Homo sapiens: one gene and its partners. The protein of the gene in region 1 purifies or fractionates together with the protein of each later gene. This does not show direct contact. Each region holds a gene or a part of one and is shown in the gene's direction. Other genes may lie near its edges.

The links. Proteins that work in one complex are often made in the same cells at the same time.
Region 2: the proteins of CSNK2A3 (region 1) and BHLHE23 purify together in Homo sapiens (co-immunoprecipitation; one large-scale study listed by IntAct). This does not show direct contact.
Region 3: the proteins of CSNK2A3 (region 1) and GPATCH2 purify together in Homo sapiens (affinity purification with mass spectrometry, with the first as the bait; one large-scale study listed by BioGRID). This does not show direct contact.
Region 4: the proteins of CSNK2A3 (region 1) and ADNP purify together in Homo sapiens (affinity purification with mass spectrometry, with the first as the bait; one large-scale study listed by BioGRID). This does not show direct contact.

What each region holds. Positions count from the first base shown.
Region 1 is NC_000011.10:11,350,973-11,355,426, reverse strand, and holds CSNK2A3 (casein kinase II subunit alpha 3), read left to right. Parts: upstream 1-2,176; 5' UTR 2,177-2,307; coding exon 2,308-3,483; 3' UTR 3,484-3,485; downstream 3,486-4,454. UniProt on the Homo sapiens protein: Probable catalytic subunit of a constitutively active serine/threonine-protein kinase complex that phosphorylates a large number of substrates containing acidic residues C-terminal to the phosphorylated serine or threonine.
Region 2 is NC_000020.11:63,004,544-63,008,747, reverse strand, and holds BHLHE23 (class E basic helix-loop-helix protein 23), read left to right. Parts: upstream 1-1,783; 5' UTR 1,784-1,973; coding exon 1,974-2,699; 3' UTR 2,700-2,821; downstream 2,822-4,204. UniProt on the Homo sapiens protein: May function as transcriptional repressor. May modulate the expression of genes required for the differentiation and/or maintenance of pancreatic and neuronal cell types. May be important for rod bipolar cell maturation.
Region 3 is NC_000001.11:217,616,708-217,621,385, reverse strand, and holds part of GPATCH2 (G patch domain-containing protein 2), read left to right. Parts: intron 1-886; coding exon 887-1,603; intron 1,604-4,678. UniProt on the Homo sapiens protein: Enhances the ATPase activity of DHX15 in vitro.
Region 4 is NC_000020.11:50,899,555-50,904,232, reverse strand, and holds part of ADNP (activity-dependent neuroprotector homeobox protein), read left to right. Parts: intron 1-231; coding exon of another isoform or gene 232-236; coding exon 237-344; intron 345-2,123; coding exon 2,124-2,216; intron 2,217-4,678.

The sequences.
Region 1 (4,454 bases):
TTTTGTGCATGTTTAATCACCTCCTTAAATGCCCCATCTCCAATATAGTCACATGGGGAGTTACAGCCTCAGCATATGAATTTGAGGAAGGGGGAGACAATTCAGTCCATAGGGAGTGCTGTAACAGAAAAAACACAGTGTAAGTATCAGAAAGTCAGGGATTTTTTATATTTTGTTCTGTGGTAAGATTCCCATCTCCTACAACAAAGACTGGCACATAGTAAGTGCTCAGTAAATAATTGCTGAACTGCATTAAAGCAGAGGAGGGACATGCTCTGATGTATAATTTTAAAAAGTGGATTGGAGGGCAATACGGATTGAAGGGCAACACGACAACGCAGAAAGACCAGGGAAGAGGCTCTGGATGGAGATGCCCACACAAAAATAATAGGGACTTGGACCAGGATGTTGGCTGTGCAGATGGAGAGAAGTGATTAAATTCAAGCTATATTTAGGAGGTAGAACTGTCTGCTTTTGCCGATGTATTGGATGTGGAGAGGGAGGAAGAAGACATTGCTACAGATGAATTACAGGTTACAGGCTTCGGCTATTAGATGGATGAGGGGCAGACTAAGGGACAGATGGGGAGGCAGGGAAGAAAATCGGGAACTTCGTTTTGGACATGGTAAGGTTGAGATGCCTGAGACACATGAGAGTGAAGGTGAGACGTAGGCACTTGGGTATATAAATCTTGAGCTCAGAGGAATGTAGTGTGTTTTCCCCTGTCCCGAAAAGCTGTGGTATAGCAATAGTGAATCTTATCATCAGTGGAATATTATAGTGATAATAATTATAGCTGATACTTAGGGGCCTCTAAACTTCTTCCAGGTGATGAAATAAACTGTCTCTGTGTATTACTTCATTTAATTCTCACAGCAACTATCTTTGGAATTTATCACTTTTATCTCCATTTCATAGACAAGGAAACTGAGTGTTGGAAGGTGAAGTGAATTGCCTAAAGTCACCAGTTCAGCAAATGGGAAATGTAGGACTTGACACCAAGACTGTTTGGCCCCAGAGGCTATGCTCTGAACCATAATGACTTCCTGTCTTCCAAAAGGCAGGCTCTTGGATCCATATCTTACTGTGCTTCTAAATTATCCTGTGACCCTGAACCTTAGTTTGCTCACCTGGGAAATGAAGGGAGGTCCTGGTTAGGTTCCCTTCAGTTCTACTCTATTGCAGTATGCTGATCTCTTTTGTAAATCTGTATTAAATGAGAGTTTGCTATCGGTGACTTTCAGAGATGACACCAGTGATGATGCCCATGCTGACGATTCATTCTGATGTCTATGAAAAGAGCAAATCCTTTAAGAGAAGATGTAGCATACCAGTGTTTATAATCTGAGTTTCATTTGATTAAGAGGGGAAGCTCTTTAGAACAAATATCATTTCTGAGCGAGAGAATGTTCAGCATCTCAGCCTCATTTGTATCATTTGATAAAAGGGCCCCACTGAGCCAAGTGTGAGGATGATGCTTGAGCCAGACACATAGACACCAGACATTCCTCTGATGTCTGCTCCCCAGGCTTGGCCACATTGCCTCCCACCAACCCCATCTCAATGACACATCCATTACCTGCCATCAGTTGGCTCTATGGTGCTGGGAATGACAGAGTGTATCTACCCTGGATTTCAGAAAGAACCCTCCTGGCTTATCATGGCAACACCCTTTGGACACTCGTTTAAAGAGTCCTTCTTTGGGCCAGTGTTATCCTTTTGGGGGCATCTGGTATGGACGGCCAATTTGAATCTGACTGGGACATGCTAATGAGCCATTCATATGTGTGGGATTTGTTTCTGATTCGATTAAGCTTCAGAGAGAGGAAAGAAACAGCCACTGATTAGAGACATAAAAAAAGAAATACTTTAAGTGAGTAAGTGGTTCATCTTCATATAGGAAAGTATAAATTAAACATGGTCCAGGAGATGTGCTTTGAATAGCAGCTGGATAGCACAAGCATGTCCACAAGGAGACGGTGCCTCACAGCAATTGAAAGGGACTTAACCCCCAAAAAGGGCTCTGAATATGCTGAGTAAATAGATGAGCCCAGTTAGCTGATAAAAATGACTCTCAGATTAGAGATGGGAAGGTTTTTATTTGGATTTTAGAAAATTGCTCCCCACTCCATCGCCGCCATATTGTCTGTGTGAGCAGAAGGGAGAGCGGCCACAGCCGCTGCCGCTTCCACCACAGTGTGAAGAAAACAGGTCTGAAACAAGGTCTTACCCCCAAGCTGCTTCTGAACACAGTGACTGCCAGATCTCCAAACATCAAGTCCAGCTTTGTCCGCCAACCTGTCTGACATGTCGGGACCCGTGCCAAGCAGGGCCAGAGTTTACACAGATGTTAATACACACAGACCTCGAGAATACTGGGATTACGAGTCACATGTGGTGGAATGGGGAAATCAAGATGACTACCAGCTGGTTCGAAAATTAGGCCGAGGTAAATACAGTGAAGTATTTGAAGCCATCAACATCACAAATAATGAAAAAGTTGTTGTTAAAATTCTCAAGCCAGTAAAAAAGAAGAAAATTAAGCGTGAAATAAAGATTTTGGAGAATTTGAGAGGAGGTCCCAACATCATCACACTGGCAGACATTGTAAAAGACCCTGTGTCACGAACCCCCGCCTTGGTTTTTGAACACGTAAACAACACAGACTTCAAGCAATTGTACCAGACGTTAACAGACTATGATATTCGATTTTACATGTATGAGATTCTGAAGGCCCTGGATTATTGTCACAGCATGGGAATTATGCACAGAGATGTCAAGCCCCATAATGTCATGATTGATCATGAGCACAGAAAGCTACGACTAATAGACTGGGGTTTGGCTGAGTTTTATCATCCTGGCCAAGAATATAATGTCCGAGTTGCTTCCCGATACTTCAAAGGTCCTGAGCTACTTGTAGACTATCAGATGTACGATTATAGTTTGGATATGTGGAGATTGGGTTGTATGCTGGCAAGTATGATCTTTCGGAAGGAGCCATTTTTCCATGGACGTGACAATTATGATCAGTTGGTGAGGATAGCCAAGTTTCTGGGGACAGAAGATTTATATGGCTATATTGACAAATACAACATTGAATTAGATCCACGTTTCAATGATATCTTGGGCAGACACTCTCGAAAGCGATGGGAACGCTTTGTCCACAGTGAAAATCAGCACCTTGTCAGCCCTGAGGCCTTGGATTTCCTGGACAAACTGCTGCGATATGACCACCAGTCACGGCTTACTGCAAGAGAGGCCATGGAGCACCCCTATTTCTACACTGTTGTGAAGGACCAGGCTCGAATGGGTTCATCTAGCATGCCAGGGGGCAGTACGCCCGTCAGCAGCGCCAATGTGATGTCAGGGATTTCTTCAGTGCCAACTCCTTCACCCCTTGGACCTCTGGCAGGCTCACCAGTGATTGCTGCTGCCAACCCCCTTGGGATGCCTGTTCCAGCTGCCACTGGCGCTCAGCAGTAACGGCCCTATCTGTCTCCTGATGCCTGAGCAGAGGTGGGGGAGTCCACCCCCTCCTTGATGCAGCTTGCGCCTGGCGGGGAGGGGTGAAACACTTCAGAAGCAACGTGTCTGAACCGTTGCTTGTGGATTTATAGTAGTTCAGTCATAAAAAAAAATTATAATAGGCTGAAAAAAAAAAAAAAGAAAATTGCTCCCCAAATCCCTATGACATTTAAGCTCATTGTCATTCTCTGGCAGCACCAGTGACAGTAATGGGGGCCAGAGATCCTATTTCAAAACAAAGAAGTGATTACAGTAGATAGCGCAGGTGTCAATGGGACCCTGATTTGGAACTTGCTAATACTTCTGTCTCTGAGTTTGGGGCTTCTATAGGGTTTTGGTTCCATAGATATGCCTGGACTTGAACTAGCTTACCTTCCCAGCCTTGTGCATCGGGAAGCTGTGAGGGTCAGATCCTTCTAGATTTTGTGTCCCCTTACAAGGGTTGGAAGAGTCTGGCTGCAGCCCTGGCCTCACCAGCTGGCTCCCTCTTGCGTAAGTGGAGTTGCCACAGGGCTTCTGTCTGTGGCTTTCCAAGGAACCTGGAGCTGTATGTCATCTTCAAACCTGGACCTTTCCTCTACCACCCTGGCTAGCTTCACCCTTGGTTTCCTGCCCTCTGCTCTGGTTCTGAGTTTGAACCAAACTCTCACAGCAGCCCGATGTGCAGGAGTCCAAATGTCCTGCCTGCCCCTTGCAGCTCCCTCTCTCACCCCTTGGGGCTAGATCTGCTCCCTGCATCCTCAGCCTCTAGTGGGGTACTGCTTTGAATGAACTCATCAGCTGGAATTGGGAAGCGGTCACCTTCCAGACACTCCATCTGTCCCTATACCTGGAGCTTTCTCATATGAGCCCCACACAATAGATTGAACCTCTGGAAACTGGTGCCTGCAGGGACCATGCCTCTTTGGTCACCTTGCCTCTTTACATAC
Region 2 (4,204 bases), on another chromosome or scaffold:
TGTGGAGCCACCTTCCCCCATGGCCCCCACCAGCCCTGCAGTTCAGGCCCAGGAGGAGGCCCCGCAGCCCCGGACCGCACCGGCAGCAGTGCCAGAGTGGCTCTCCGAATGGCCACGGCGCCTTTCTTCCCATAAAGACCAAACTCCCCGCGTGATTCAAACTGTCCCACAGGCCTGGTCCCGCCCCTCTATCTCCTGGCCCCACCCGGGCCCCTCACTGCCCTTCCCTGTGCCAGGCCTCCTCCGGCCACCTGAATGCTCCCCCGACCCCGGCCCGTGGCCACAATGACACCCACTCACCCTTCAGACCCAGGCCCAAACACAGCGGCCTCCTCCACACCAGGTATCCTCAATTCCCGGTCTGTGCATCAGCCCCGAAGGCGGGGTGGGGTCCCAGGACAGCGCCTCAGACAGACGCTTCCATCCTCGGGGCCCCTGCGCTCCTGGCGGGCGTGTGCTGGGGGTGAGGCCGGTGCTGCAGGACGCGCAGCCAGACAGGCCGCCAGCCCGGCAGAGGCTGCCTCAGACCCATTCCCCTCCGCCAGGACAAAGGCCTGAGTTTCCCACGGAGACTTATCCATGCATCTGTCTCCTCACACCCCGCACCTGGCAGGGAACCACCGGACAGGCCGGTCACTGCTGCGTTCCCAGAACCTTCCAGACAGCACATCCGCCCCACACACGTGCAGCTCCCACTCCCCTCCCGGGGCTGCGCACACTGCCCCATCGCTGTGGCTCCTCCTGGGGCGGAGCCTGGAGAACAGGGAGGGTATGCGGCCCTTCCCAGGTCACACAGAAGGGCCCGACGGGCCGCTCCACCTCGTGCCATAGGCCAGGGTGGCCCAGTCTCCCACCCAAGCCAGGACCGGAGAAGCCACTATCCCTCAGCACACTCTAGCCTCAGCACTCGGCCGGGCCTCCAGGCAGGTTCCCACCTGGGAGAAGGGCTGGGGTTCTGGCCTTCATGCGGGGTTGGAAGAGGACTGAAAAGGCGAGTCCGAGGCTGGCCACATTCCCATCCAGTGTGGCTGGACCCCAGGGGTTCGGAGGCTCCGGGAAAGCCCACCAAGCCTCACGCGTTTCGCTGATAGATGCCCAGGAAGCGGCTGGCAGGGAAGAGGCGGTCCTGCAGCTCACAGAGCTCCCCTCCCACCCCCGGGGAGCCCCAGGCCGCGCTGCCCTCCACCTTCCCGCCCTCCCCGGCCTGCAACGCTCGTGGCGTTTTTCAACAGGTTCTAGAAACTCCCTCTCACTCTGCCCCTCAAGCCTGGCCACAGGGCGCCCCGAGCAGGGAGTGTGCGGGCTCCGGGTACACGCTGCGCCGCGGCTGCACCAGAGCGCCCACGACCCTGACCCCGACCCGAAGCGGCCCCTCAGCGGGACAGGGTGTTGGCGCTGGCGCTGCTGCTATTGCGGCGCGCCCCCCCGCTCTGGCCCCTGCGTGTCGCCAGGGACTCTTGCGCTAGGGTCAGACTCAAAGACGGACCGAGGCGGGTGCCCACCTGGGACGCGTGCGTTTGGTGGCGGAATCCCCGGGGCGGCCGGAGGCGGCGGCCGGGGAGTCGAGAAGCAAGTACTAGCGCTCCAGGACCGCGCGCGCCGCCCCGCGCCGCCCCGCGCCGCCCCTCGGTCCAGAGCCCCCACCCCCGGCCTGTGAGCCTGCGGCGCTGGTGGAGCCCGGCTCCAGGAAGAGGAGCTCACCCGGTCCCCCCTGATTGGACAGCAGCGAGGTCCCACCGGGCGCCTCCGCGGCTTAAAACCGAAGCGGGGGCGAGGGGGAGGTAGAGCCCGCCCCCTGCGCGTCGCGGCTGGGAGGGAGAGGAGGTGGGAGAGAAGGAAGAGGCGGAGGAGGCAGCGGGCGCCGAGGCTCTGGGACCCGCAGGCAAGCCAGACCGACGCGCAGAGCCGGGAGCCTCATCGCAGCGGCAGCGGCAGCGGCGGGCTCGGGCCGGCCTCGGGGGCTGCTCACCCACATGAGCATCCGCCCACCCGGCGAGCCCCCGAGCCCAGGCGGCGCGGCCATGGCCGAGCTCAAGTCGCTGTCGGGGGACGCGTACCTGGCACTAAGCCACGGCTACGCGGCGGCGGCTGCGGGTCTCGCCTACGGGGCGGCGCGAGAACCCGAAGCGGCCCGCGGCTACGGCACTCCGGGCCCGGGCGGCGACCTCCCCGCGGCGCCTGCACCTCGCGCCCCAGCTCAGGCGGCGGAGAGCAGCGGCGAACAGAGCGGGGACGAGGACGACGCCTTCGAGCAGCGGCGGCGGCGGCGCGGGCCAGGGAGCGCGGCGGACGGGCGGCGGCGGCCGCGAGAGCAGCGGTCTCTGCGGCTCAGCATCAACGCGCGCGAGCGGCGGCGCATGCACGACCTAAACGACGCGCTGGACGGGCTGCGAGCCGTCATCCCCTACGCGCACAGCCCGTCGGTGCGCAAGCTCTCCAAGATCGCCACGCTGCTGCTCGCCAAGAACTATATCCTCATGCAGGCGCAGGCCCTGGACGAGATGCGGCGCCTGGTGGCCTTCCTCAACCAGGGCCAGGGCCTGGCCGCGCCCGTAAACGCCGCGCCCTTGACGCCCTTCGGCCAGGCCACTGTGTGCCCCTTCTCCGCAGGCGCCGCCCTGGGGCCCTGCCCTGACAAGTGCGCCGCCTTCTCCGGGACGCCCTCCGCGCTTTGCAAACACTGTCACGAGAAGCCGTGACCGCGCGGGCCCCCGGCCCTCCCGCACGCGTCCTCCGATCGCCCCTGTGACTGTCTCTCTGCCCGGACAGGAAAGGCCTGGAGGGACCCTGCAGACCAGGAGGAGGGGGCCCGACTTCGCTTCCAGCCTGTGCGCGGTGGACAGTTTAGCGCAGCGGGAAGCGCCAAGGCCGTCGGGGCGCGGGATTGAGCTCGAGAGCCGGACGCTGGACTCTGCGCCCGGGAACTCGCGGCACCCACTGGGTATTGTCGGGACCCAGCAAGTCTAGGAACGGGGGTGGGTAGAGCATCCTTCGGGCACTGCCGTTCGTCCCCAAAAGAAGACCACCGCGGGGTCCCAGGGCCACGGCGAGGACGGGCACTGGTCAGATTCCGGACAGGCGGTCCTGGCCCCGGGCGCACGAAAGGTGGAGACGAAGAAAAGCCGGACTTACTGGCTCCTGATCCTCTTGCAGTGGGCCTCGCGCTCCCGCTCCAGCCGGCCCTTCGTGCTAAACTGCAGGGCAGTGCTCTGTTCCTGAGGACGCGCGTGGCCGGCACCTCCCACCTCGGTGACTCCGAGACTCCGCAGCCCTGCGGAGAGCCCACGATGGCCGTCTGCAGAGGAGCTGGACCGCGGGCGCAGGAAGACCCCGGGGAAGGCCTTTTCCAAGTAGGAGTTTGTTCTATTTATTTGGGAATTGGACGCCGTCGCCGGCTGCCTCGAAGTCTGAGGAATTTGTCCCCTAAATGTCCCCTGGCCTCCCCCCCCCGCCGCCATCCGCTGCCTGGGACGTCCGCGGGGTGGAGTTGGATGGAGACCGCTTTGCGGGCCCTCTGCCTCGGGGGGCTGCGTGGAGGAGGGTCCTCACAGCCCGCGCCCTACTTAACCCTGACGGTCAGGGGAGGGCCCCGTCTAGCCCTGGTGTCCAGCAAACCCCCTCCCCACCGATCCCCTCTCCCTTCCGAGGGAGGAGGCCGGGCTACGGGTGAGTAAGCTGCTGCGGGCCCCGTGCCCCGCCGGGTGTGAACGGAGATGCGCTGCGCAGTGCCCGTCCTGCGCAGCTCCCAGCTCTGCCACCATCCGGGATCCAGGGAGCCGGGCAGGGTGCCCCCGGGGACCCATCTGTCCGCGCCGGTTTGCGCCCCGCGGCCCCGCCGCAGTATCCGGCTTTATTAACCCAATTTCCTCGGCTGTCGGTAATGCCAAGGGGAGAGGGCCGCCGCCCTGCAACGCGCCTGTCTACAGCGTTTAACTCTGATTAATACATTCCACAGGGCCTTCTGTACTTGCAAAATCAAGTGTATGGTTAAGTCTTATTCATAAAGACATATGCCTAATACTGGTTTCTGCTAATTTCCACTTTTATTTCTTCATTGTCTTTTTTTTTTCCCCTAACAGACTAGTTTATCAGTTTTGCACATTCGAAAAGCTGAGTGCCAGACACCGTTTTTCCCCTTTTAGATAAAGTGGGAAAGCTGGAAACTCAAATGCCCTTCACTTCTAGGGTCATTTCAACGTGATCT
Region 3 (4,678 bases), on another chromosome or scaffold:
GTGGTCTTCATAAGACGGGTGCAAATCTGAATTGCCTGTGATGTTTAAAAAATAAAACCAGATACCTTGGCTGTATGTCACCCCAACTAATTTAAAATCTTTGGGAATTGGGTTTTAAAAGGACAGGTATAATTTATAAAAATTCCCAAAGAATGCTTATGCTTATTCTTGCTGACTACTGGATAATTTTCATACTGGTAATATAGTTTAATGCTCTTAAAAAAGGAAAGCCTAAGAGATTGCTTCAGAATGAAGTAATGATGGGCCCTTTGAAACCAGTGAGGCTCCAATTTGAATGCGAATGTAGTTTGTGCTTCACTGGGTTAAGAGATTAGTGTGGCCTAAATAAATGCATGGTGTTGGTTAAACTTTCACGTATATTACTAATCCTGAAACTACCTGTCTGTCTTTCTAACTGCCTCTTATATGACAGTGACTGGTTAGGGCACGTGGTGAATAGAAGATTTCATGTTTCTTTTTTTACTTAGAGATTAGTGGGCGAAGAGGGGACTGAGAAAGTTCTTTCTGTATCTGCTGTAGGAAAACTGGCTCTAGAAAAGGGGTAGGAGTGGGCCAGCGGATAGGGATTTAAACAGAACTTTTCCATAATTATACAGAAAAATATAAAAATACTGGGATCTTTCATTGCTCATAAGCTTATTCTATCTTGGAAGTAATTCCTATGTTTAATAAAAGAACTTATATAAGAAGAGGCCTAAAATGAATCAATATTTAAAACTGTAATATCTTGGATAGGAAAATTAGCTTTGAAACATTTTGTAATCATTAATTTTTGTCGAATTTAGAATGAATTGTCTGTTATAGAAAATGAGGTTACTGTGGTTAAGACTGACTATTTTCTTTTTTCTTTCTCTAAAAAATGAAGGCATTTCAGTAGAACCATGGAGGAGCTGGTTCATGACCTTGTCTCAGCATTGGAAGAGAGCTCAGAGCAAGCTCGAGGTGGATTTGCTGAAACAGGAGACCATTCTCGAAGTATATCTTGCCCTCTGAAACGCCAGGCAAGGAAAAGGAGAGGGAGAAAACGGAGGTCGTATAATGTGCATCACCCGTGGGAGACTGGTCACTGCTTAAGTGAAGGCTCTGATTCTAGTTTAGAAGAACCAAGCAAGGACTATAGAGAGAATCACAATAATAATAAAAAAGATCACAGTGACTCTGATGACCAAATGTTAGTAGCAAAGCGCAGGCCGTCATCAAACTTAAATAATAATGTTCGAGGGAAAAGACCTCTATGGCATGAGTCTGATTTTGCTGTGGACAATGTTGGGAATAGAACTCTGCGCAGGAGGAGAAAGGTAAAACGCATGGCAGTAGATCTCCCACAGGACATCTCTAACAAACGGACAATGACCCAGCCACCTGAGGGTTGTAGAGATCAGGACATGGACAGTGATAGAGCCTACCAGTATCAAGAATTTACCAAGAACAAAGTCAAAAAAAGAAAGTTGAAAATAATCAGACAAGGACCAAAAATCCAAGATGAAGGAGTAGTTTTAGAAAGTGAGGAAACGAACCAGACCAATAAGGACAAAATGGAATGTGAAGAGCAAAAAGTCTCAGATGAGCTCATGAGTGAAAGGTGACTTTTATATTCTCTAAATATAAAAATATTTATCTCCAGTGTTTGTGGTTGAATGTTTTATATTTTAATTAATTCTATTTTAAAATAATTATAAATTGTAATAATGATAGTGATATTACTGTTTAGCTATGGTTATATTTCCTTATACTTTATGATGTTTAGCACAAAGCAAAATTGCTTGTTTGATTTACACAAAGTCTTTTGATTGTATTATAATGACTCAATTTTCAGCTACAAGGAGGAAAGGAAATGGATTTTCAGTGGAAAAGAATGTGCTTTTGAATAACAGCACGTTTGTAACTCAGAATTGGATATATAATTATATGTTTAATTATAGACCTTTAGCTTTTGGTACTTTATAGAGTGTCACAATTCATTAATCTATCCTGATTCTTGAACATCAAAAGTTTATACCACTTCGACATGTCTGTGGCTTGACATAAAAAATCTGGAGCTTTCTAGGAATTCTGATCACTTATGAATTTTAAAACCCAATTTATAGTCTAGAAACACCTGGTTTTGTCATTAGAAAAATAGGAAAAACAATGGTCCTGTGGTAGTAAATCTAATCTGTCAATAATTGTTAAGTACTATTTTGACAGCATCAAAAGGTAAGTGATCATTTTTCTTTTATACTGAAATGATGAAGTGATGCTACTTGCAAGAAATGAGAATGTATTAACACTTTTTCCTTTTAGGCATGGGTCCGCAAAACCGAATGCTGAACTATGAGCCAGAAAAAAACAGTCTGTAAATATGGCCTGAGAAAGAGTAATTGATTTTTAATTTATAGGGCTGCTATCTTTTTTTTTTTTTCGAGATAGAGACTCACTCTGTTTCCCAGGCTGGAGTGCAAGGGTGTGATCTCAGCTCATTGCAACCTCCACTTCCTGGGTTCAGGTGATTCTCCTGCCTCAGCCTCCGGAGTAGCTGGGATTACCTGTGTGCACCACCATGCCTGGCGAATTTTTTTTGTATTTTTAGTAGAGACGGGGTTTCACCATGTTGGCCAGGCTGGTCTTCAACCCCTGACCTCAAGTGATCCACCCACCTTGGCCTCCCAAGGGCTGGGATCATTTTAATCATGTGAATTGTGGTGAGCTATCAATCTTTTATTTGGTTTTTATTTTTTATTTTGTTTTTTTGGGGTTTTTTTGCTTGTAAATGAGTGGGACCTGGTAAAAGTTTATGGAATTATCCTTTTATTAGACATGGTGTGCTAGTCATATAATTTTTCTAAAGAAGTAAAAATTACTTACATTAAAAAATTGTGGCTGAGCATGGCGGCTCATGCCTTTACTCCCAGCACTTTGGTAGGCTGAGGCTGGTGGATCACCTGAGGTCAGGAGTTTGAGACCAGCCAGACCAGTATGGTGAAACCCCGTCTCTAGCAAAAATAGAAAAATTAGCCGAGTGTGGTGATGTGCGCCGAGTCCCAGCTACTCAGGAGGCTGAGGCAGGAGAATTGCTTGAACCTGGGAGGCGGAGATTACAGACATCCAAGATCGTGCCACTGCGACAGAGCAAGACTCTATCTCAAAAAAAAAAAAAAAAAAAAGTTTCCAGAGGGCTTTGAAAAGTTTATGGTATCTGTTTTTCTTGCAAGAAAATTGTCATTCTTATATGGAAATAAGTATTATTTGTATTAGGCCATTGTGACTTAAGACCATTCAACCTTACTTGAAAGTAATTGTCTGACTCAATTACCGGGAGGGAGAGTATGTGGCAGCTGATATAACATACTCAATTCTGGATTATTTACAATTAGATTACCTGCTTTTTGGATTCATTGTGCAAGCTCCCCCCCTTTTTTTTAGTTCTCCTTTTATTGATCTGCTTTTTTATAGGACATGTAACTGGTAATGGATATGAGATCAAACTCTCATTTTTCATTTCTTTTCATTGTAAAAAGTATTTGAGTATCTACTAGGCATGAACAGGCTACCTAGCAGTCCACAAACAGCCCAGGTACACGTTTTCAGAGTATGTTTTTACTCTTGAATAAATGTTAAAAAATATATTTTCTCTGATTTGAAACTTATTTATAAACTATTTTCTGTTGTCACTTAAAAGTTAGGTGCAAATTCCTTCTGTGCAAAGATTGCTAAATATTTAAGGTATTTTGGTAACAAGTATAAGCGTTTTCAAGACTACTTCCAAAGCTTTCCTACTACAAAAAGCTTTATATTTCCTTGGGGTTGATTTATAAATAAGAGAAACTTCAGTGTGGGGGGCTGTGTGTGTGTGTCAGATTTAACAAACATTGATGATTAACTACAATTTACTCTTCACTGGTGGCACCTGGACTAATAATGGAGACTCTGTTCTCAACAGCTGCATAGTCTGGGATAGCCAGGCAAGCAAATGATGAAAATGAAATGTGCTGAGTGGAAAGTATTAGTGAGGGAAGACTTGCTAAGGGAACTGTGCTTTAAAGCAAGTAGTAAGACTTGTTCAGGAATTGAGGAAGTCAAGAGAAGAGAGGGAAATGGCATTCATAGGTAGAGAGGGAGCAGCTTGTGCAAAGGCATGAATTGTGAAATGAAAATACATACTTTGTTTTTACCGGCAATAAAGTGGGATCAGAATTACAGCAAAAAGCATTTCTCAGAGGTCTATCTGCTATGGTAAATAGTTTGGATTTTATCATCTTATAGTCAATGGGATCAGTGAAGAATTTTTAACAGTGAAGAAACTCAAGTTGATTTACATTTTTTCAAGATAGTGTGATCTTTATAGCTGTATTTTGGTATTTTGTTTATCTTTGACCTCCAATCCATGCTTAAGTGGGAAGTGAATTACGATATGATAGCAGAGAGAACTAAGTATTTGAGAGTATTTGAGACCAATTTTAAGAGTTAGAATCGATGGGAGGTTGACTGACTATTTGGGAGGATGAATGAGAAAGAGGACTCTACGGAAAATATAGGAATTGAACAAATTGGGGCAAGTGATTGATATTAGTGTACATATATTTGTTCATCCAGCATATGTGGAATATATTCTCATCCAAATACCGTGTTATAAAATTCACTCTAAAAAGGTGAATCTCCAAGGAAAGGGTGTCTTTGG
Region 4 (4,678 bases), on another chromosome or scaffold:
GACAGAGTAAGACTCTGTCTTAAGAAAAGGAAGGAAGGATGGATGGATGGATATATCAAGCCATATGCACATGAAAGCAGGTGTGTGTCTGTGTGTGTACACACTAGATGAGGATATCTATGCACCTTTTTTGTCAGATGGGTAGGTTTTATGATCCTATCATCAGTGGAATTAGTAAATATTACAAGTTGTACGTGTTTTGACTTTGACTTAAATTTTTTTTTCCAATAGAAACTATGTTCCAACTTCCTGTCAACAATCTTGGCAGTTTAAGAAAAGCCCGGAAAACTGTGAAAAAAATACTTAGTGACATTGGGTTGGAATACTGTAAAGAACATATAGAAGTAAGTAGCATGTCATTTTTAAATTTTAACATGACTCAGCTTCTGATCCATTACTTTGTGTCAGTGGCCAAGATGGCTAAATCTTAGATGTGATTCTGAATTTCAGCCACAGCAGTAGCTTCACGAAAACATTCTCAATAGCATTAACTTGTGCCTTTCTCCCTAAAATGGGCTTTTTCATTTTTGCATCCTGAAGCAGAAGGCTACCATTGAGGACTTAAGCATGTCAGGCGTTGAACTAGGTGCCGTAAAGTTGTCTATACATTTAATCCTTAGAACAACCATGGAGGCGGGAGGCAGTGTAGCAGTTCTTATCTCCACTTCACAGATGAAGAACAAATAAATAGGCCCAGCCTTGCAGCTGAGAAAGTGGCAGTGTCTGTGGGACTCAAAGCCTGTTCTCATTCTGATACGCCTGAATGTTCTGGTTGACCTTCTTCTAATTGTTGAGGCGTGCTTGTGTGGGTGCTTGTTGTCTCTTTCCTTAGGATTTGAGCATTTGTTGCCCCTTTTGACCCATCATAGACTATTACTTTCCCCCTTGTATAACAGTTTGGGCTTTATGAACTGTTTTTCAAGCTGTTTTATTCTATGAGCTTTATAACAGCTCTGTGGGATAGCCATGCAGTGGTCTCCTTTTCAACATCTCACTGTTCCAGGTCTTATGGTTTGTTGGTCAGAGCCCCTGATTGAAAAGAAATGTTTGAAGCTGTTTCCCCCACTAACCTTTAAGTTCTAGGTGGCTAGGGAACATAGCTACCTTGTTTATCCATTTAGCCCCAGCACCTAGCACAGTGTTTTGCACGTAATAGGTGATCAGTAAGTGTTTGAATGGAATTGGAAGTAAAAAAGCAAATTCATTCATACAACAGGTTTTCTTAATTTGAGTTCCACTAATAATACTTGAAGAGTATGGCATGGAAACAGAAGCTGCTCAAAAGTTGACTTCTCTAGTCACGTTGTTCCAAGTGTGGAAGTAGCCCTTCTCCAACCCCAGAGTTCAGGTAGATCTGCCCAAATGAAACAGTCCATTCACTTTGCACTCTGTGGGGTCATCTTCATAGAAATAATTAATACCAACATCACAGTACATTTCTGTCATGCATTTGATTTGTTCCTCCTATGATTATTTATGTGTAGACTTCATTTTCCACCTTGAACTGTGAACTTTTTAGGAACAAGTGGGATTTTACCCTAAGACTTTTAATCTTCCTAGTCTGGAGGGAAGTGGACCATTAAATTTTTACATGAGAGTATAAATTTAACATCATACTGCTTAACTTTCTTTGAATAGCTTTCTTTCTGCCTTTTTGGGTTTGAAATTTGAGTTTTCTTCCTGATCTGATCTCCTGCCCCCTCCCCTCGAAAAAAATCTTTTTTTTGCACAGAACCAGAAATCATATTTGCAGTGCTGTAAGCAAACATTGCTATTTTAGACACCATTCCAGTACTGTAACTGACGAGTTAGAGTACAGTACTCTAATGAAAAGTGCTTTGATATTAGTGTGTGGCTGAATTTTTTACTTAATTAGAACTTCCAGCAATTTCCTTGGAAACCTGACTGACCATCAGGAAAGTGGTTGGTTGATATAAAATGTAGACTGCAACTTCCATATGCCTTTTTATATTTAAGAGCCTTATCACTCCTAGTTTAAGTCCTTGTTGACGTTGGTTTTCCTGTGCCTCTCCCCATCTTAGTTAAGAGGTGAGATTTACATGTAAGATTGGGTTAGCGTTTATACCACTATGTTTTTGTAAACTTATTTCACTGTTTTCTAGGATTTTAAACAATTTGAACCTAATGACTTTTATTTGAAAAACACTACATGGGAGGATGTAGGACTGTGGGACCCATCACTTACGAAAAACCAGGTAAGTGGCACAGGAGACTTCCTCAGATGGCAGCATGCTTGGTATACTCCCTTTTCAGCTCTAGGCCTTTTATAGCGGTGCAGTGATTGCGGGCAAGTGCCAAACATCGAAAGTGTCAAAATTGCATTTCATATTTTCCTGACCAGTGGGAAGACTAAGAAAAACTTTTTGTCCTTTTTTGTCATTGGACTAAAACTTGAGGTGTAAGAAGAAACAAAATTTTGTTACTTAAAAGTTACGAAGCCTGCTGTATCCCACCATTTCCCCTAAAAGTGCTCTGGCTCTATTTTTCTGCATCTGTGTTGCCATTCTTGTTTTTTCTGCACAGAAAAAGACAAGACCCTTCCTTACATTTAAGCTTTTCTTATTTCCCTATGTTGATGGCACCCAACTTCTATGGGAGGCCTGGGGAAGTGACTCTGTAGGATGTCAGTGACAGAGAGATAAAACTTCTTACAAATTGGCATTAAAAACAATATTAGCACTGCCAGCAAGTATCAATAGATGATGATGATGTCATATAGGTGATATTTCCTTCTGCATAGAGAGAGGTAATTGTCAATTTAATTTTTACCATTACCTATTTTAGGAGTGATTCTCATTCTGCATTAATGATCTGTTCATCTATCGGAACATACTTTTCAGGAAATTAGTACTCAGATATTTGACTTTTTTTTTTTTTTTTTTTTTTTTTTAAATACCCCAGGCAAAGTTACTAACCAGCAGTCTTAGAATGAGAATGCTTTCCAGTGGGACACATCATTTATTTAATTCAGTTTTATCAATCTGAAAGCCTCATAGCTGAATACTAAAGAAGAGTTGAGCTTTGAGGAGAAGCAGAGTATTTCATCATGGTTCAAACCAGTATCTGAAACAAGTAGGTTTCTAGGGAGAAAAGATAATCTCTTACCAAGCATGTCAGTTCACCTGCCTTCATCAAAGGACTGACTGCATAGGTGTTAACAATCATAATTCTGAAAGTTGCTCTTTGATATCAGTATATTCTATAATGTATTATTGGCTTTTAAATACCTCACCCTCCTCACAGTCTGTAGGACATTTTTATTTAACTTCTTGATTTGAATCAAAGCAGCTATTACTTCATTAGCTCTTTTGAAGTGTTCTTGGTTGAGAAGGAACAGCAAGGCTTATAGAAGAAAGCCAACTTTTCAAATCAGTCTTTCTTTTGATCAGCGCTGAATCTGATACTACACTGTACTTTAATCAGAGGAAAAAATGGAGATTTGCCTTTTTTCTATGAAAATTTATCCATAATGAGGAAAGGAATAAAAGATATAGCTTTATCTCTTGTAATTGTCTAATTGCACTAAAACATCGTGGGCCCTGAATTTTACCGCAGTCATTCACCACATAACGACATTTTGGTCAGTGATGAACTACATCTACGACAGTGGTCCCATAAGAATATAATTGAGCTGAAAAACTTGCTACCTTATGACATCATAGCGCAACATATGATTCATGTTTGTAGTGATACTAATGTAAACACACCTGTGCTGCCAGTCATAGAAGTATAGCACATACAGTTATTTACAGCGTATAATACCGTCGTGCATTGCTTAATGATGGGATGCATTCTGAGAAATGCCCTGTTAGGTGATGTCATTGTTGTACAAACATCATAAAGGGTACTTACACAGACCTAGGTGGTATAGCCTCCTATTACCCCTACGCTATATGGTATGGCCTGTTGCTCCTAGGCTACAAACTTGTATGGCATGTTACTATAAGAGAATACTATATACTGAATACTATAAGAGTGATTAACACAATGGTAAGTATTTGTGTTTCTAAACATAGTGAAGCATAGAAAAGGTACAGTAAAAATGCAATATAAAAGAAAAATTGGTACACCTATATTGGGCACTTGCGGGACTGGAAGTTGCTCTGAGTGGTGACTGAATATGAAGGGACATTATTGTACATCACTGTAGACTTTATAAACACACTTAGGCTACATAAAAAGTAAAACTTTAAAATTCTTAACTTCTGAATCTTTTGTAATAACACTTAGCTTAAAACACAAACACGGCAACCTGCCCGGGTCCCCTTCCACACTGCGGAAGCTTTGTCCTTTCACTCTTCATAATGAATCTTGCTACCGCTCCAAAAAAAAAAAAAAAAAAAATTGTACAGCTGTATAAAAATATTTTGTCTTCATATGCTTACAGGCTTTTTCCTAGTCTTAAACTTTTTTTTTTTTTTTAACTTTTTAAACTGTTGTTAAAAACTAAGACACAGACATAATTAGCCTAGGCCTACACAGGGTCAAGATCAATGGTATTACCATTGCCACCTTCACAGCTTGTCTCACTGGAAGGTTTTCAGGAGCAGTAACACGCATGGAGCCATCATTTCCTGTGATGGCAGTGTCGTCTTCTAGATACCTCCTGAAGGATCTGGCTGAGGCTGTTTTAGAGTTAACTTTTTTTTAAAAAATA